Homo sapiens: one gene and its partners. The protein of the gene in region 1 interacts with the protein of each later gene in a pairwise test. Each region holds a gene or a part of one and is shown in the gene's direction. Other genes may lie near its edges.

Region 1 (7,884 bases):
ATGAAATGAACTTGGTGTGTTGCAACTATTATTTATTTATTTAAAAAGAAGGGCTAAAACTGTATAGACTAGATTTAAATATACTAGAATGGATAATATTAAAATGCATCTAAGACAGTGAAAGATAATTATTCCATGAATCCTGTGTTTCAGTTATATAGTCATGTACCTAGTAGGCGTTTGTACCGGGTGCTGATGTACAATGCATATCCCAGTGGTTGTCATGGTCAAAAAAAAGTTTATAAGCCACTGATCTAAAATGCATTATTTAGTGCTATGTTTAATTTTTTTTTTTTTTTTTTTTTAGACGGAGTCTCACTCTGTCGCCCAGGCTGGAGTGCGGTGGCACAATCTCGGCTCACTGCAAGCTCCGCCTTCCGGGTTCACGTCATCCTCCTGCCTCAGCCTCCCAAGTAGCTGGGACTACAGGCGCCCACCACCATGCCTGGCTAATTTTTTGTATTTTTAGTAGAGACGGGGTTTCACCGTGGTCTCGATCTCCTGACCTTGTGATCCGCCCGCCTCGGCCTCCCAAAGTGCTGGGATTACAGGCATGAGCCACCGCGCCTGGCCTGTTTAAAATTTTTTAAGATGACATGTTTAAGAGTTAAAATTTAAGAATGAAGAGAAAGCTATCTAGAGAGGCTGTATAATGAGGTGGTTAATAGCATGGATTCTGGAGCCAAGAATCCTAGGGCCAAGGAACTTCACCCTTTCTCCACAACAATAAAGCAAAATTATGGATTTTTGGTTGCTATAATACCAAACATCATTCAGTATAAGCAAATTATAAATGTCAACTTAAAACTAACAATTTTTATTTAAAATTCTTATTTTTGAATCCTATGAGAAGCATCCTACCCAGGAGTACTATGTTTATATATCAATAAGTAATATTAAACTTGTTTCAGTCTTTGTTCCTTCTTTCATAGAAAATTTTCTTCAGTGTTTCCATTGTTAAAATATTGTTGTTTTTTTTTTCTTTTTGAGACAGGGTCTCACTCTTTGCCCAGGCTGGAGTGCAGTGACACAATCTTAGCTCAATACAACCTCTGCCTGCCGGGTTCAAGCAACTCTCCCACCTTAGCCTCCTGAGTAGCTGGGACTACAAGCATGCACCACGCTGCCCGGCTAGTTTTTGTATTTTTTGGTAGAGATGGGGTTTTACCATGTTGGCCAGGATGGTCTCAAACTCCCGATCTCAAGTGATCCACCTGCCTTGGCCTCCCAAAGTGCTGGGATTACAGACATGAGCCACTGCGCCCGGCCCCAAGACTACTTGATTTAGTTACTGCAATTATTATTATTATTATTATTATTATTATTTGGATTATGCGGTAGCATAGTATTGGTGGTAGAGATATCAATATGGTCCTAGTAGAATATTATAATTTTTTTCTAATATTTCATTGAGTCAAGTATGAATGATAAAAACAACTAAAATTTACTGAGGTCTATATTAAGTGAGGTGCAAGGTGCAAGTTTTATACATGTATGCTCGTTTCACCCCCTAAAAAACTCTATGAAAGAGGAATTATTATCTACATTTCACACATGATGAAACGATCAGAGGCTTAGAGAAGCTTACACATGACTAAAAGCATCTAGCTAGTTGCTAGTTGTGGGTAATGCCAGAATTCAGATGGGGGCAGTCTGGCTCTTTAAGCTGTGCTCAGAGTCAGTTTTACTACATCTCAATTAACGGTGAGCTCTTGGTCTTCGAAATGCAATTAAACCTAACACTTTTATATCACTTTCACAGAAGTTACTTGGTCCTTATAACAACTCTTTTTTTTTGAGATGGAGTCTTGCTCTGTTGCCCAGGCTGGAGTGCAGTGGTGCGCTCTCGGCTCACTGCAACCTCCGCCTCCTGGGTTCAAGCGATTCTCCTGCCTCAGCCTCCTGAGTAGCTGGTACTACAGGCGGGTGCCACCATGCCCAGCCACAACAACTGTTTATTACTTTACTTTACAAATAAGGAAATGGACTCAGAGAGAAGGTAAGTTTCTGAGGTTTTGAGTGGCCAGATATTTGAAATACAAGTCTTTTGCTCACGTCTTGCAGCTGCCTCTTGGATGTCTGGTATGCTTTTTGACAGGTACAGAATAGATTAATACACACACACACAGTTTTAGTTGTGGATTTATTGAGATATAATTGACATATCATGCAATTCACACATTTAAGGTATGCTGTTCAGAGGTTTTTAGCACATTCACAGTTGTGCAATCATTTCAGTCAATTTTAGAACACTTGAGTCACTCCATTAAAAAACCTCGTAACTTTTAGCTACCATTTTCTACTCCCCACTTCTCCAGTTCTGGGCAACCAGTAATCTACTTTCTGTCTCTACAGATTTGCCTATTATAGACATTTCTCGTAAATGGAATAAAATATTCAGTGGTCTTTTGTGTCTTGTTTATTCACTTAGCATAATGTCTTTAAGGTTTGTCCATGTTGTAGTGTATATCAGAACTTCACTCCTCTTTAGGTCTGAATAATATTCCATTGTATGGATGTACCACATTTTGTTTATCCATTCATCAGTTGATGGACATTTCAGGGATGTTGGAAATTATGAATAATGCTGTTATGAACATTCAAACATTTATTTTTAAAATTACTTTTATGTAAAATTGTCTGCTTTTTAACATTATGACAAATACTTTCTTCCCAGTTCTAAATTCTCAACGAAAAATTCTCCCTGATATCAGACCAGCAAACCAATGAACAGTTGCATGGACAGATGTACCTGAATGAATTTAAAAAGTAAATAATAAATACTATAATTAGCACAGTTGCTCATTAGTTATATAAAACAGCAATAACACTAGGGAATTAGTAGCAGTATAGAGCTCCAACTGAACAGTACGTGGCAACCCAATCTATCATTTATCACAGAGCTTATTTGGAAGTATTAGTCTACTTTAGTCTTCTAAATGTAAATTCAATGAGCTGAAGCTACTTCAATAGGACCTGGCAGCAGAAAAGGAATGATGTAAGTTTTCACCAAATTATTACAATTTGGTAGTAGAGGATGTTTGTTTTGATGATAGTGGCTGTTTTTGTTGTGATGTTTCTGTTGTGATGATAGTTTTTCAGTCTAAACCAGTACTGTGTAATATGAAATCTTAAGAGGCTATTTTAGTGTATTTAAAACTAAAAAATTTTAGTTACAAAGTTTCCTAAAAATTAGTGATACTTTTTGAAAAGCTGGTTCAAGTACATTTTATTAATTTTTTTCAATAAAAGAGAACAGTGTATTCAAGGTATTTAGTACAAGGTGGAAAGCCTACTTGATTTATTTTTTTTAATGAGTGAATGAATTCAACTTCTACTAGATTATCCTCTGTAAGTTGCGTCTATTAGTTTACACATCAGTCTTTCACGGGTGATTAACCTCACTAAAAACTTCATGTTCATCAATATTGTGTTGAACTTGAAACTGTATTATCATATATGTTTATTAATAGGCAATGGTGTCAGATAATCGTGAAATTGAGAAGTCGCCCATCCATTTGGGTGGGAAAATAACCAACATCCTCAGTTGTAATCCCACTAAGAACCGCCAGGGCGAGACGAAAGCGACATCGCTTCCATCTTTACGTGAGTCTTGGAAATGGTTCAGCACCATGACGTCCGCCGAAGACGTAGGTGTAGACGAGGAACAAAAGAGAAGACCCCTCGTGGAGGTGGCCTGTGGGGCCCGCCCTCCTCGGGCGCCTGTCGTCGTCTGTCCCTGACTCCGCTCCCCCCGGCGGCCGCAGCGAGTGCGCCCCGCGATGCAGCGGGCTGTGGAGGGAGCCTCCATGGAGTCTCCATCAACCATTGAGGACCAGGAGACGGTGGCAGGCGGTAGAGAGGCCTGGGCAGGGCCAGCGCCCCGGGCTGCGGAGCACAGGACGGCGGCGCCCAAGGACGCCCCAGGGCAGGCCTCAGCCCCTCCAACCGGTGGGAGCCCAGCTCCAGGGGAGCCCGCAGCTCCCTCCATCTTGGTTGATGGAGGCGGGGAGCTGCGTCTGGGTCTCTCCACCGTCGTGCCCGTCCCCTGTGGCCCCGCGGACGCAGACGCCAGCAGCCGGGGTTGTTCCCTTGGCCGAATGGCAGAGTCCAGTTGGGGCTTCCCGAGGACAAGTTTCCCGGCCCCACGGGGTTTGGTTTTTAGGGGGTCCCAAGTTCCCACAGTCGTTCCGACAAAATGGAGGACGTCGTCTCCTCCTGCTGCAGCCATGGCGGGAGGTGGGGGACTATTCCCCACGGGGCGCGGCGAGGGTGGAAGGGCCTCCACTGCCCCCAGCGCGGTCGGGATTCCAGTTCACCCGCGGTCCCGAAAGCCCACTCGGACCCGCTCCAGCGCCTCCCCGGCCTCGCCCCTCGCAGGGGCCTTCAAGCAACTGGACAGGGAGGGCGTTGGGGCATCGAGGCCGCGGCTCTCCTCGGGCAGAGGCGTTGGGAGCCGCTGCCGCGGCCTGGGCGCCCGGGCTCGGGCGAGGGCAGGCGGCCCCGCCGGAGTCTCCCGGGCTGTGTAGGTCCCGGAGAGCCCCGGGCCCCGAGGAGCCGAAGCGGGTTCGGTACGGCGGGCAGCGAATCTCGGGCTCCTGACCCTGGCAGACCCGGTGGGTGGGGGCGGGGGACCGGCGGGGAGGGGACCCGGCCAGGAGTCGAGGGCCGGCGGAGGCGGGAGTGGAACGGCAGGGCCGGGGGAGTGGCCCGCACCTGACGGACAGCCCTTCGGACCACCCTACCGAGGGGGGGCCCTGAAGGACGGCCGTCGGAGCCAATGGGCGTGCCCGAAGCGCTCCGGCCAGCCTTCCCCGTCAGCCAATGAGCGCGCGGAGGGCGGGGCCTCCCCGGGCTCGGCCGCGCCGCCGCCTCCTCCGCCTCCTCCTCCTCACCAGCGCTAAAGCCGGGACTGGACCGAGCGGAGTTGTGCGTGTCGCCGAAGGGGGGTGGGCCGGGGGAGGGGAGGTTCGTTCCGCGGAGCCCCAGCCAGAACCGGGTGAGGCTTATCCCCGCTGTCTTTCCAGTCCAGGGCCGCCGAGAGTGGGGGTGGCTGGGAGCAGCGCAGCCTCCGGAGGAGGAGGCGGAGGCGGAGGCGACTAGGGAGGCGGAGATGGGTGAGGGCAGCCTCCGGAGCCTCCCACCGACCCGGGATTAATACCCCGCGGCGCGGCCGCCGTCGCCGCTGCCGCGTCGGGGCCTCGGGGGCAGCTCGGGGCTGCGCTCATGTCACAGGCGCCTTTGCGTGCGGCCCGAGGGGCTGGGAGAGTGCGGGCGAGGCCGGGAGGGCTGGGTGAGGCGGCCGCCAGCGGCGGGGGTCGCGGGGCCGGCGGGGCGGCGGGACGGCGGGACGGCGGGGCGGGGGTGCCGGCCGCCCGGGGAGGTCGCGGGGCATTTTCCTTTCTCTCCGGCGGGGGGCGGGGGAGGGGCGCCCCGGCTGGGTCTCCGCTCTCGGGGCAGCGCTCCCACCCTGTCCACCGGAGCCGAGGTCCCCAAGTTTTTCGGGGTGAGGGCTGCTGCCTCTGCTCCGCCGGGTCCCCTCCTTCGCTCTTCTTTTCCTCGGCGCTGCGCTGCGCGGCTCTTGCTCCGCACGTATTGTTTGGCTGGGTCTCTAATGGCGGACGGGGAGGCAGCGCTGCCGGTCGCCGACTGCAGGGGGGGGCAAACCTCAGGCCCAGGGCAACTGCTTGGGGCAAATGTGGGCGATATCGGCCCAGCAGTGACGTGAGCCGCCCCTTACCTCTGAATTGGTACTTGGAGTGACGGGGATGACGCTGGGTGGGCAAATTTAGGAGGGAATACAAATCCCTTGCTGGCGTCGAGGCAACGTTTTCCCTTCCCCCCTCCCTTCCCGGGAGCAGGCTCGGTGTCCTTAGGCCCCCTCCCTTCCAGATTTTGCCTTTCACATGGGTTTTGGCCCCAAATATGTATTTTGCGCTGTTTTGCCCCACTTACGCAGGAGGGGGCTGTTGTGCGCATGGTGGGGGTAATAATAGAAGGACCGAACCTCCTTGACCTCTTATTCCCTTCTCTGCCTCCTTCTGGCAGAAAGGGTTGGGTTCTCCCACCAGGTTGTGTGTTTTTGATACATTTTTCTTTTTTCCTCCTATCCCAGGACCAAGAATCGCCTTCAGCCCTGTCTGGTGCATCCTTGGCAGAAAGTGAGGAGGAAAACACCCCCATTGTGAGTCCTTTGCCCCTAATTTGTTGCTAATAGAGGACATTGTCAGGTTGTAGGGGTTAAGCTATGGGACCTGGCCCTCCCCGTTGTTTTGAGGGGGAGGAGCTTTCCCTTGGGTGGCAGCTGCCCCCAGGGCGAAGCCTGGGTAATGGCTGGTGAGGCAGCTGGGAGTGGGCGCTGCTGTTTCCACCGCTGCAGACATCGCTCCTGCTGCTGCAATACCAACCTCAGCAACCAGACGACGGGCTTCTGCAGCTGCTCACGTTACCCGGGAGGAGGGGTGGTGCGAAGGAGGGCATATTTCTGGTGCCCTCTAGAGTTCCAAAATGGGAATTAAAGTTATTTCTTGTTGAATGCTGTGCATGCAACCTGAACATTTTTTCTTCCTTAAACAATGGCTAATTGATTGAAGGAATTGGAAACATAGAAATAATCATTTATATTTTTGTTTATGTCTGCTGGAAACACATATTTTGACACTTATGGCTCATGAGTTGCTAGATCTTTTTCATGTATTTGCTTAGGAAAGGGAGTCAACTCCTCTAGTACTATCTTGTTCACCAAGTAGTATGCTGATCAGTCCAGTGTACTGATCTAGTTAATTTCTTCGTTCCCCATCTTCCATGTTGATCATCTTTAACTTAACGATCATTTTTGAATGTGTTACCAGAGAATTATTTAATTTGTTGGTTTTAAGGCAACTATGTAATGTGCTAGAGAGGAAGATGAAGATAGCCAGTCATATTTTCCTTCAGGCAATTGAAACTAAAAGTATCTGAAGTCAGCACTCTGGACACATTATGTCTCTGGAGCCCATTGACAGTTGATGTGGTAACTTGTAGATCTCTGTCAGAGTCAGAGATGAGTTATTTACGCTTAAGTATTCAGTCCACATGGTTCAAAAAATAGTGAATTGATAAGCATTTGCTGAATATACATTGTGAAGGATGATGTGAGAATAGTAACTTACATTAAATATACACCGTTCTAGGCACAGTCCAGGACACTTTCCTTTAATCTTAGCAAGTAGCCCACAGGGTAATACCTATGGCGTGTATTGAGCCCTTATTGTATGCTAGCCCAATTCTAAGGTTTTTTTTTTTTTTTTAAGTTTATTATGGAAACTTTAAATTTTACTAGTAAGAATAGTGTACTGAACCTCCATGTACCCATCATTCACATTCTAAAATTATCAATACGTGCCCACACTAGTTTTTAACATGTGTTAAGTAATTTAATTATCACGAAAACCCAGTGATGTTGATAACCACAGTTATCAATTAGATTTTTATACTGCCTTGTTTCAAAACTAACGGGCTGTTTGGATCAGAATTAACATAGTCTCTTTTTCAATATGTCTGTACAATTTACAGTCTGTAATTGTTTTCTAAATATTGCTAACTTGAATGAATATAACATCTCTAATGAGTTTGAAGTTCATCTCAGGCATCAGATCATTCAATAATGAATCAAGGGTTAGATCTTTCAAATAGATGGATGATGCTTATCGCCACATATTTTCACAAAAGATTTATCTTTCTAGGATTTTTTTTCTTTGTTCTTAGTTATGTTGATAGGGGAAGCTTGATAATTGGTTGTGTTTAGTAGATATTTGGAGATGAGGAACATAAAAAATGCAAAATCAGTACTTTTCTGTAATGTCAACATATGTATACTAACGGAAAGCAGTGCTGCTTTTACGT
Region 2 (4,858 bases), on another chromosome or scaffold:
AGAATGCTCCCAACTTTATTCATCTTCCAAGCCTGTAGCTCTTGGTATACTCACTGTTGCAAGTCAGAAGCTTGATTTCATCATTGATGTTTTTCTCACGTTTCACATCTCACTCATCACCAAGTCATGTTGGTGTTAATTTCTGATTAACCCTTGAATTTACCGTCTTCTCATCCTCTGTACAAAAGCCTCAAGTGAGGGTCAAATTCAACATTATCCTGATCTAGACAGCCCCCATTCTCAATCCACCCTTTTCCAAGTTGATTGCCCAAGGACTTCTAACAATAAACTCTCTTTTGCACCACAGACTTCTTTGAAAATATACATGCTGTTGACCCTCTCTGTAGAAAACCGCACACATAAAACTTACCAACAGATTTCATTGGTTCTTGGGTTCTCCCGAAGCCTATCCATGGTTTATAGATTAAGAATTGATGAGGTAGCTGGGCACAGTGGCTCACACCTACGATCACAGCACTTCGGGAGGCTGAAGCAAGCAGATCACTTGAGGTCAGGAGTTTGAGACCAGCCTGGCCAACATGGTGAAACCCTGTCTCTACTAAAAATACAAAAAGTAGCCAGCCGTGATGACAGGCACCTGTAATCCCAGCTACTCGGGAGGCTGAGGCATGAGAATTGCTTGAACCCGGGAGGCGGAGGTTGCAGTGAGCCTAGATCATGCCACTGCACTCCAACCTGGGCAGCAGAGCAAGACTCTGTCTCAAAAGGGGAAAAAAAAAATTGCTGATGTGACCCATGAAGGGAACTCATTTTCCTCGTAATTTTGGACTGCCACACATTGGTACCTTTAGTTCTCTGAAGGCCCACGTTTTTATCATTAAGACCTATTTGTTAGCTAGTAGAGCTTTATGTTCGCTGTCCATGAAACCTTCTGTAACCACAGTGACTACAAGTAGTTCTTTCTCTATTGAATTATTAGGTCCAGAATAGAAGATGTCATTGTACACTTTATTTCCCTCACACTGTGTTATGCTCTGATGTGCTATGCTTAGCTATCTGTCAGAGATTAGTAAATTATAAAACTCATGTGTACTACTTAAGTTTATATCTTATGCTAGTTTATAAGAACAATTAAAAGGACTTAGAAGATTAACTTTGGTTTCATGGTCTCTGAAGTCACTGACTGCTATTTCAGCTTGTTTACCCTTACCTAGCATTAAGACTCCATCTACTTCTGTGCAGTATATGAAAATTTTTAAACTTTCATTTAGACTGGTGGATAGGACTGACCATTACAAATTGTCGTTATCAATTTTTTTTCCTTTTTTTTTTTAAGAGCCAAGTTCTCACTGTCTCCCAGGCTGGAGTGCAGTGGCATGATTATGGCTCCCTGCAGCCTTGAACTCCTGGACTCAAGCTGCAGCCTCTCGAGTAGCTGGGTGCATGTGCTACCACACCCAATTATGAATTTCATCATTAGTTTCTTAGTAGAGTCCACATGTCCTCAGTAGTAAGTTCATCAGTGCTAAATATTTGAAGGTATTTCTACTGTTTTGTAAAAGTAACTTAAGCCTACCTGGTCTGCTATCTTTTGAGTATTTATACTTTCTACGGGCTTGTAGGTAAACATAAAAAGAGAAAAAATATCCCAATAATACAGTTTTTAACCTTTTATGATAAAGACATGCTTAGAATTGCTGTTAAGCTTTCTGAGATTTAACCACTGAAACTAAGTAAAAGACAAAGCACTTAGGTAAAGCTTCATTCAGTATCCATTCACCCAATACTGGTTTGATTCTAGGGCCTAGGAAAATAGGACTGAGCAAAGCCCTTGTCCAGATGGAACTTATGTTTTAGAGGGGAAAACAAACCATAAAAAGGTAAACAGTATAAAATCAGGAAAGGATAAATGTATATGAAGAATCAAAATGAGGACGGTGATGGGGATAAGAGGGGAAGGTTTTTGAGGAGAGCAGAGCAATGATGTAAAAGCAAGACACACAGATAGGGAAATAGCTTTCCATACTAAGGGAATGGGAAATAAAGCTGAGTTTTGCCTTGAGGACCTCCAAACATGAGAATTGCTAGAGCTCTGTGAACAAGGATGAGAGTGGAAGACAATATAAGCAAAGGCTACATCACTTAGGGCCTATAGGCCACACTGAAGTGTGACAGGAAAAACTCAGTTTGAGCAGAGGCTTGACATACTTAACATATTTAAAGGTTCTCTGGCTGTTGTGTGGACAAGAGGAGAAGCAGAGATTAGTTAAGAGGCTATTGTAGCCCAGGTGAGGGATGATGTATGATCTTCAACATGTCTAATTTTTTTGTGCCTCAATTTCATGAAATGAAAATGCGACTAATACCACCTCATAAAGTTGTGAGAATTACATGAGTCAATATATGTAAGGCCCATCATGGCACACAAATGTGTTATGTAATATCCATTTGGCAGACTGAAGAACAACAGTATGAATGGAATTCATTCACCATGAGAATTACCTGGAATTCTCTGGGCATGGTAGCTCATGCCTGTAATCCCAGCACTTTGGGTGGCCGAGGCAGGTGGATCACCTGAGATCAGGAGTTCGAGACCAGCCTGACCAACATGGAGAAACCCAGTCTCTAATAAAAATACAAAACTAGCCGGGCATGGTGGCACATTCCTGTAATCCCAGCGACTCAGGAGGCTGAGGCAGGAGAATCGCTTGAACCTGGGAAGCGGAGGTTGTGGTGAGCCGAGGTTGCGCCATTGTACTCCAGCCTGGGCAACAAGAGCAAAACTCTGTTTCAAAAAAAAAGAAAGAAAGAAAATTACCTGGAATTCAATATTGCCATCGGCTGATTTAATTTCTAATATGAAGAAAGGGGCAGTGTGATGTGCCACGGAGCATCCACAACCTGCCATTTCAGCCCAGCCAACCTTAGAAAGCCATTGAAAAGAGTTGTTTTTAATGGTGTTTTTACATCCAGCTTCCCACACCTCAAATACTTGGGGTGGAATTGTTAATCTCACATTGCAGTACAATGAAAATAGTGGAATGGAAATCAAGTTATAAAATGGAGCTAAATATTTCTTCTGCTTGCCTCTGAGTTGATAAGATACCATAAGATACTGTACATGAGGCTGGGCGCGGTGGCTCACGTCTTATTTCTTCTGCTTGCCTCTGAGTTGACAAGATACCATAAGATACTGTACATGAGGCTGGGTGCAGTGGCTCACGCCTGTAATCCCAGCACTTTGGGAGGGTGAGGTGGGCAGATCACCTGAGGTCGGGAGTTCAAGACCAGCCTGACTGACATGGAGAAACCCCCTCTTTACTAAAAATACAAAATTAGCCAGGCATGGTGGTGCATGCCTATAATTCCAACTACTCGGGAGGCTGAGGCAGGAGAATCGCTTGAACCTGGAAGGCAGAGGTTGTGGTGAGCTGAGATCGAACCATTGCACTCCAGCCTGGGCAACAAGAGCGAAAATCTGTCGCCAAAAAAAAAAAAAAAAAGATACTGTACATGGAAGCTTCTCAGGCTAAATCCATTAATATAAAAATACATTGTGGATACTGATGAGATGGCTAATTCTGTCAACTTGACTAGGCTACGGGATGCCTTGATAGCTGGTCAAACAACATTTCTAGGTACATCTGTGATGGTGTTTCTGGAAGAGACTAGCACTTGAATCAGTAGACTTGAGTAAAGAAGACTGCCTTCACCCATGTGGGTGAGCGTCATCTAATCCATTGAGGGCCTGAATAGAACAAAAAAGGGGAAGAAGGGTGAACTGCTGGGACATCCATTTCGTGCCCCCAGATGTTGGTGCTCCTGGTCCTCAGGCCTTCAGACTAGGACTTAACGTTATTGCCTCCCCTGATTCTCAAGCCCTCGGGTTTGGAACTACACTGGCTTTCCTGGGCCTTCAGCCTGCAGAAGGCAGACTGTGGGACTTCACCTCCATTTTGCAGAGCCAATTTCTCATAATCTGTACATATCCTATTGGTTCTGTATTTTTTAGAGAACAAATACAGCCTATTATGTATATATAAGACCCTGGGAATGCAAAGATGAACAAAATTAACCTTCTGCTCTCAATGAATCTTGGAAGTCTCCAGAGGCAGACAATTTCAAAACACCGTATATAGTCTTAATATGGAATTAACAATAGGGTATTGTGAATACACAAAAGTAGGAAGGACTCTGATCTCTAGAAAACAATTGTATACTGTGAATGAAAAAGACTAATTCTCCACAGTCTATACTCAATCTCTCTTACCTTTCCATAATTTTCTTCAGCAAACTTATTACCACCAAACATAGTACATGTTTATTTATTACCCATCTCTCCCAACTAGAAAATAAATGTATTACACTGGGCTGTCTTCTTTGTTGTCAGCTGTATCACAGCAACTGGTGTAATACACGGCACTGGCATATACAAGACAAACACTTGTCAGATGAATAAAAATGCAAATTCCAGGAGGTAGGGGGACACATAACTACATGGAAGTTAGAGGTGAATAGCATGCAAGGGGGCTAGGAAATAAGTATAGAGACCTATGTGAGTTGGGGAGGTGGCAAGCAGAGGCCAGATCACAAAAGCTCTTACTGCTCTTCTTTGGAGTTCGGATTTTATCGTGAGGGTAGGAAAGTGGCATCAGATACATGCTTTAAGAGATCAGTCTGGTTTTTTTCCCACCATGTGAAAACAGAAGATGCCATCTATGAATCAGAGTGGCCCCTCACCAGACAATCTTTCCATCCTTCACAATGTGAGATGTAAATTTGTTATTTAAAAAAAAAAAAACAAAACACCACTATGGTTTGGAAGATTCCTGTTTCAAAAATGGCAGGTTAAGCCCCATATTTATAGGCTGTTTGCCACAAAACTCCATTAAAATGA
Region 3 (6,975 bases), on another chromosome or scaffold:
GGACGTGCCAGTGTTGTACCACACTGCCACCTGCTCTCTGCCTGGGTGAGGCTGGGGTCATGCTGGCTGTTTGGCTCTCAGGGAGCAGAGAGGTCTCCCAGAGGCTGCAGGGAGCACGCCCCTTGAATCACCCCTGTTCCAGATTCTACCTGCAGAGGGCAGTATTGAGCATACACTGATGCTTCCCTACCAAGCCTCAGTTCCTCCAAGCCCTGGGGTGTAGGACTTGGGGTCAGGGAAACATTCGGCCTTCAAACCAACTGGGCCCACGGAGGGCATGCCCTAGCCCTGACACTGCACGGGCCGGTGCAGACATCATGGGGGTACCACGAGTCAGTGCGCGGCAGCTCTATCCTTTCGCCCAGACCCAGCAGCTCCACTCACAGGGCCACATGTTTTTGTTTTTTTGTTTTGTTTTTTTTTTTTGATGGGGTGGGGAGACAGAGTCTCACTCTGTCACCCAGACTGGAGTGCAGTGGCACAATCATAGTTCATTGCAGCCTCCAACTCCTGGGCTCAAGCAATCCTCCTGCCTCAGCCTCCTAAGTAGCTGGGACTACAGGTGTGCACCACCACACCCAGCTAATTTTTTTGTATTTTTAGTAGAGACGGGGTTTTGCCATGTTGGCCAGGCTGGTCTCGAACTCCTGACCTCAGGTGATCCACCCACCTCGGCCTCCCAAAGTGCTGGGATTACAGGCATGAGCCACTGCGCCCGGCCAGGGCTGCATGTCTTTAAGTACGTGACTTTACCCCACTGTAACATGAGGCCAATAGTACCCACCTGGCAGGCTTAGCGCAAGGCTTAGAGAACTTAAATGCAACCAACCCAGCACCTAGGAGATGCTTGACAAGCAGGGGCCAATCACCAGTGTTATCTACCATGGGGGCCACACTGTGGTCCAATGAGAAGCTGCAGGAGGAGGGAAGTGGAGACTCACAGAGGAAAACTGACTTGCTCAAGGTCATGCAGGTGATTAGACAAAGAGGCAGGGGCCAGGTGCGGTGGCTCACACCTGTAATCCCAGCACTTTGGGAGGCCGAGGCGGGCGGATCACGAGGTCAGGAGTTTGAGACCAGCCTGGCCAACATGGTGAAACCCTGTCTATACTAAAGATTAAAAAATAAATTAGCCCAGCGTGGTGGCGCGTGCCTGTGATCCCAGCTACTCGGCAGGCTGAGGCAGGAGAATCGCTTGAAACTGGGAGGCGGAGGTTGCAGTGAGCCGAGATCATGCCATTGCACTCCAGCTTGGGTGACAGGGCAAGGCTCCGTCTCAAAAAAAAAAAAAGAAAAGAAAAAGAGAAAGAGGCAGGGTGGGAGACGACCTGGGTCTCAGAGGGCCACACAGGAGGGTGCCTTGAGATGTCCCAGACCTCCTTACAACAGGAGGGTGGTGAAGGATGGAGGGAGCATTGGTGACTTCATTCCCAACCCTGACATGGCCCAACATCCTCTGTGGGCATGAGGGCCCCTCTGCGCCCTGCCTTGTGCTGGGCACTGCAGATGTGGCCTGCCTGGGAGGAGCTCTCAGTCTGATGGGTTTGTGGGTTTCCTATAGGAGACCTGGTCAGCCAAAGTTAACCCTCACCAAGTTCCTGGTGTGTGTCCAGAAGAGACCCCAGTGTAATTGTCTGACGGGTGTTCCTGCCGCTGCACAGGAAGAATTCACTGAGACCATGGTATTACAGCGAGAAATAGTTTTATGTTTCTTAATTTTTAAAATTTTTTAGACAGTCTTACTCTGTCGCCCAGGCTGGAGTGCAGTGGTGCGATCTTGGCTCACTGCAACCTCCGCCTCCCAGGTTCAAGCGATTCTTATGCCTCAGCCTCCTAAGCAGCTGGGATCACAGGTGCCTGCCACCACGCCCGGCTAATTTTTGTGTTTTTAGTAGAGACAGGGTTTCACCATGTTGGCCAGGCTGATCTTGAATGCCTGACCTCAAGTGATCCACCTGCCTCGGCCTCCCAAAGTGTTAGGATTACAGGCATGAGCCACCGTGCCTGGCCTAATTTTTGAAACACAGTCTCACTCTGTCACCCAGGCTGGAGTGCAGTGGCTGAATCTTGGCTCACTGCAGCCTCCACCTCCTGGGTTCCAGTGATTCTCATGCGTCAGCCTTCTGAGTAGCTGGGATTACAGGCATGCACCACCACACCCGGCTAATTTTTGTATTTTTAGTGACCAGGTTTCGCTGTGTTGGCCATGCTGGTCTTGAACTCCTGACCTCAAGCAATCCACCCACCTTCGCCTCCCAAAGTGCTGGGATTACAGGCATGAGCCACTGAGCCCAGCCAAAAGCGTCTTATTAATGCAGAGCTAGCCAAGCAGTAGGACTGGAGTTATTACTCAAATAAATCTCCCCAAGAACTCAGAGGCTAGGGTTTTTATGGATAATTTGGTGGGCAAGGGCCCAGGGAATGGGTACTGCTGATTGGTTGGAGATGAAATCACAGGGGTGTGGCAAACGGTCCTTATGCACTGAGTCGGTCTCTGAGTGGGGGCCACAGGATGGGCTGAGTCATGAGTCACACAGGTCCAGGTGAGTCAGTCGGTTGCCCGAATGCGAAAGTCTGAAAAACATCTCCAAAGACCAATCTCAGTTTCCACAATAGAGATGCTATCTATAGGAGGAAGTGGGGAACTCACAAATCTTGTGATCTCTCGCCACATGACTCCTGAGCAGTCAGATTATAAAAACGATGCGTAGGTTTTAGCAGCGTCCAGGCCCCTCCCATAATCCTAATCTCACGGCCTTTCGTTAGTTTTACAAAGGTGGTTTTGGTCTCTTGTATAAAAAGCAGGTTAGGTTTAAGGAGTAACTATTATCATCCTTGTTTCAAAGTTGAACTATAAACTAAATTCCTCCCCCGGTTAGCTTGGCCTATGCCCCGGAATGAGTGAAGACAGCCAGCGCGTGAGGCTGGAAGCAAGATGGAGTCAGCCACGCTAAACTTCTGTCACTGTCCTAATCTTTGCAAAGGCAGTTTGGCCAGGAGGCTGTGGGGAGACCTTGTGGGTTTTGCCAGGACCTGGGAGATTCTCGATCTATGTTTGGCTGTCCTTCTAAGCCAGAAGCTCCCTGGGGTTGGGGCCTGCCTGGGGTGAGTCCCTCCCTCCCTGCCATGCCCAGTCTAGCCAAGGTCTAGTTCAGGGATCAGGGCACCACGTGGGGGAAGGACTGTGTTCCTTGTGCTGAATTAGGATTTATGGCTTTGGGGCCGGATGGGAGGCGTGCGCACTGATTCAGTAGGAGCGCTGCTGTGGTGTGTGTGTGGTTGGTGGGAGCGGGGCGGGCGGGGGGCGGGGGGGCTGGTTGGGGGGACAGGGGTAAAAGCCTATCAGAGGGAGGTCCCATCAGACAAGATGGGACCAAGAGTCCAGTTGGCTCTGCTGCGACTTTCGGCCTGTCACTGCCTTCCTGCACATCTCAGGGGTGGGAGGGGGACAAAGGCTGTAAGAGTAAGAGGTACCTGGCCCAAGCCTTAGGACTAGAACCCGGGCCAGGCGGGAGTGACCAGCCGGGACACTCAGGGCCTCCGCGCGTTCCAGCTGGGTGACCTTGACCCTCCAACTTCAGCCCCCTGCGCCCGGCTGCTCTCCCAGTGGTGGTGGGGAGCGGTGGGGGTAGACGGGGGCGCGCCCAGGCTTTTCTAATCCGGCGCTGGTGGGGGAGAACCGAGGGCGCCACCGCCCCTCCCCGCAGGTCCGGGGCCGAGGGGTGCGGCGCGCTCTCCCCACCGCGGTGCCCAGGTCCCCGGGACGCAGGGGCGCTGGGTAGCAAGGGGGGTGCGCAGGGGCGCGGGGCGCGGGGCGGGCTAATCCCGTATGTAAATGGCAGCCAATGGAGGGTGGTGTTGCGCGGGGCTGGGATTAGGGCCGGGGCGAATGGCTGGCAATCTTACTGGGATTACAGAACAAAGAGCCTCCCCGCGCTCCCGCTCTCCGCTCCTCTCCCCGCGCCGCCCCGCCCTCCGCCGCAGCCCGCGCCGGGGGTGGGGGCCGCCGAGCGCCAGCCCCCCGGCCGGCCGATTCCCCCCCCGCGCCCCCTCCCCGCGCCTCCCTCCCCGCCCTCGCCGCGCCGCCGTCCTCGCCTCCCTCTGCCTCTCCTTCCCCCATTCTCCCGGATTAATTAAGGAGGCAGCGGCAGGAGGCTGAGTCCTGGCCGCGGGCCGGGGCCGGGGCGCCGCTGGCAGGAGCGCTTGGGGATCCTCCAAGGTAGGAGAAACTTTTGCGGGGGGCGGGCACCGAGGCCCTTCTCCCCTTCTCCCCCACCCCCGCCCCCGATCCCCTCCGCCTCCGGGGGGGGGGGTCCCCGCCCCTCCCCCTCTCAAGGTGTTACAGGAGCTGGGGCCGGCTTTTGGGTGCCCGGGGAGGCACGTGACTGGGATTATAATTCGGGCCCGGGGGGAGGGGAGGGACGGCCGCCCCCCACCTGCCCGGGAGGGGCCGGGAGCTGGGAGCTGTCACCCCCTCCCTCCTTGCCACCGGCTCTTCTGGAGGTGGGGGGCGTCCCGGGCCGGCGCCCGCAGGCTGCTGCAGTTGGCGAATGAGGTCAGTCGCGCTGCCCGCGGTGGCGGGCGCCGGGGTGGGAGCAGAGGGGGCTGGGAAGGCCGCGGTCCCCGCCTTTCCCCCCTCCACCTTCTCCCGGTCTGGGCCAGCCCCTGGCCCGCGCCCCCAACTCCCAGGCGGAGTCCAGTCCAGCCAGGATTGCCCCAGCAGGGTGGTTCCTGTAGTGGACCCCCCGCCCCGGCCCCGGGGAGGGGGCTGGCCTGTGTGGTGGTGGCCGCTGAATCCCGGGTGGAGGGGACTCAGAAGGTGGCAGTGGGGGGACCACAAAGGGTTCAGAGGAGTAAGTTGGGGATACTCGGTCTGTGGGTGGTCTCTGAGTTCCTGCAGATGGGTGGAGAGGACAGAGGAGGGGCCACAGGGTGCTGAACACCCACCCGCCCCATCCTAAGTACCCTGGGCATGATGGGCTTGACACCTCTCCTGGGCTCCTCACCCCTGGCCAGCAGCCAGGGAGTGAGACCCTGCCTCGCCTGGCGTGGGCCCAGGGAAGGGGGCCGCTGTGCCGCTGAGAGTTCGTTCCACCCTCCTGGCAGTGCTGGAGGGGGCTGGAGCTCTGGCGTCTGGCCTAGTGACCCTACCTCCCAGGACCAAGGTCCTGCGGTGGGAGTCTCCTGTGTCCCCATCCCAGCTGAAGCGAGGGTGCTGGGACATAGGGGTCTCGCTGCAGGGCCTGTGAGGGGAGCACTGACTCTTGGATGGAGAATGTGCCAAGGGGTACCCCGGGATGGCCCTGGGCCTGGCGGGTGGGAGTGGAGGGCAGGCCCCCGCAGTTTTTGGAGAAGTGGGCATTTGCTGGGGTTTCTCTTAGAAGAGGAGAGGGGTGTCTAGAAGCCACCCTGGCGCGCCGCTGCCATGGTCGGCCTCTGTGTGTCTGGCTGCCCCGTGGCCAGGACTGTTGACTCCTTGGCACTGGCCCGGGGCCTTGGGACTTGGAAGGTGCCCCAAGCAGCTCATTTATTTCAGCAGTGTCATTCCAGAGGGGAAGGGCACCAGCATCGATTATTTATTCTAAGCAGGAGGAGGTGGCTGGAGGCTGGTGGCTGCTGGCAGGGAGGGGCTAGGTATAAGGTAGTTAGGTGGCCGTCATGAACCGCCCTATTTGGGGCCCAGGAGGGTGTGAGATAGACTCTGACCTCTTCTGAGCAGGCATCTGCGGACCAAGGGACAGGCTTGGCCCCAAGGTGACAGGGTATCGGAACCCCCATCCTGCCTCTGGGGTGTGGGAGGCTCAAGTCCACACCTCGTTCTTCCACAGCCTGTTCTGAGGGTGACCTAGAAATTGGCAGTTCTAACTCAGAGGGTCCCACAGGACCCCACAGAGGAAACTAGGAAGGAAGGGTTGAAACTCCGCAGCCACTCAGAGCCTGCACTCTTAAAATGTTCGAGAACTTAAGGCCGATGGTTGTAAAACTGGGTCTTGAAGACAGCTTTGTAGGGGGCACGCTAAACCTACTTAAAAGGACTGTTCTCTCGATGTTGGGAGAAGGGTCATTTATTTGCAGTATGCTAATCACAAATAATTTTTATCTGTTCATTGAAGGCAGCCTCCCAGGAGCCCGGCTAGCCTTCTGATGAGGTGGTAGTCGTCAGCACTTGGTGTTTGGCAATAGTCTGAGTGGCAGCTGTAATCTAGGGTCTTGGAGGTAGCTGTTTTTGCAGCCTGCTTGACTCCAGAGGCCAGGCCATCCACGGTTTGGTGACAGCTTGGTTGTTGGACCTGGGGTCTTGTGGATGGTGGGTGATGGCTTGGGACATTCACGTCCTAAGCATGACCTTGGAACCATAGACTGCAGCTCCCAGATGATTCTCATTCAGGGTCTAGTCTCTGACCACTCACTGCTTCCTCAGCCGACTCATAAATCCTGTAGTCTGGCCGGGCGCAGTGGCTCACGCCTGTAATCCCAGCACTTTGGGAGGCCGAGGTGGGTGGATCACGAGGTCAGGAGTTCAAGACCAGCCTGGCCAACATGGTGAAACCCCATCTCTACTAAAAATACAAAAAATTAGCCAGGCGTGGTGGCAGGCATCTGTAATCCCAGCTGCTCGGGAGGCTGAGGCAGGAGAATCGCTTGAACCCGGGAGGTGGAGGTTGCAGTGAGCCAAGACCGCACCACTGTACTCCAGCCTGGGCAACAGAGCAAGACTCCATCTAAAAAAAAAAAAAGAAAAAATTCTGTAGTCTTGCCGTTTTCCTGAATGGCCTGGCTTCCTCCTACCCCTGGCCTCTGCACACACAGTTCCTCTTCTCTCGAAGGTTCTTCTTGGCCTTTCCCCTGAGGAGGCTGGGGGGCTTCCTTTATTAGCCCTGCCTGGCTAGGGTAGGGGGTCAGGATTATAGAATTTGCCTCTTTTCCTCTCCTTCAGGACTTGGCTTGGCTGTGGTATCTTTGGGCTGAAGACTT

The links. The genes of interacting proteins can lie anywhere in the genome.
Region 2: the proteins of ZMYM2 (region 1) and PAICS interact in binary tests that used the Homo sapiens proteins (3 or more experiments, as listed by UniProt).
Region 3: the proteins of ZMYM2 (region 1) and GTF2IRD1 interact in binary tests that used the Homo sapiens proteins (3 or more experiments, as listed by UniProt).

Annotation. Positions count from the first base shown.
Region 1 is NC_000013.11:19,953,843-19,961,726, forward strand, and holds the start of ZMYM2 (zinc finger MYM-type protein 2), read left to right. Parts: upstream 1-4,884; 5' UTR 4,885-4,999; exon of another isoform or gene 5,000-5,117; intron 5,118-5,181; exon of another isoform or gene 5,182-5,293; intron 5,294-5,408; exon of another isoform or gene 5,409-5,750; intron 5,751-6,115; coding exon of another isoform or gene 6,116-6,184; intron 6,185-7,884. UniProt on the Homo sapiens protein: Involved in the negative regulation of transcription.
Region 2 is NC_000004.12:56,460,248-56,465,105, forward strand, and holds the end of PAICS (bifunctional phosphoribosylaminoimidazole carboxylase/phosphoribosylaminoimidazole succinocarboxamide synthetase), read left to right. Parts: 3' UTR 1-4,331; downstream 4,332-4,858. UniProt on the Homo sapiens protein: Bifunctional phosphoribosylaminoimidazole carboxylase and phosphoribosylaminoimidazole succinocarboxamide synthetase catalyzing two reactions of the de novo purine biosynthetic pathway.
Region 3 is NC_000007.14:74,449,958-74,456,932, forward strand, and holds the start of GTF2IRD1 (general transcription factor II-I repeat domain-containing protein 1), read left to right. Parts: upstream 1-3,948; 5' UTR 3,949-4,219; intron 4,220-4,421; exon of another isoform or gene 4,422-4,555; intron 4,556-4,564; exon of another isoform or gene 4,565-4,853; intron 4,854-6,975. UniProt on the Homo sapiens protein: May be a transcription regulator involved in cell-cycle progression and skeletal muscle differentiation. May repress GTF2I transcriptional functions, by preventing its nuclear residency, or by inhibiting its transcriptional activation.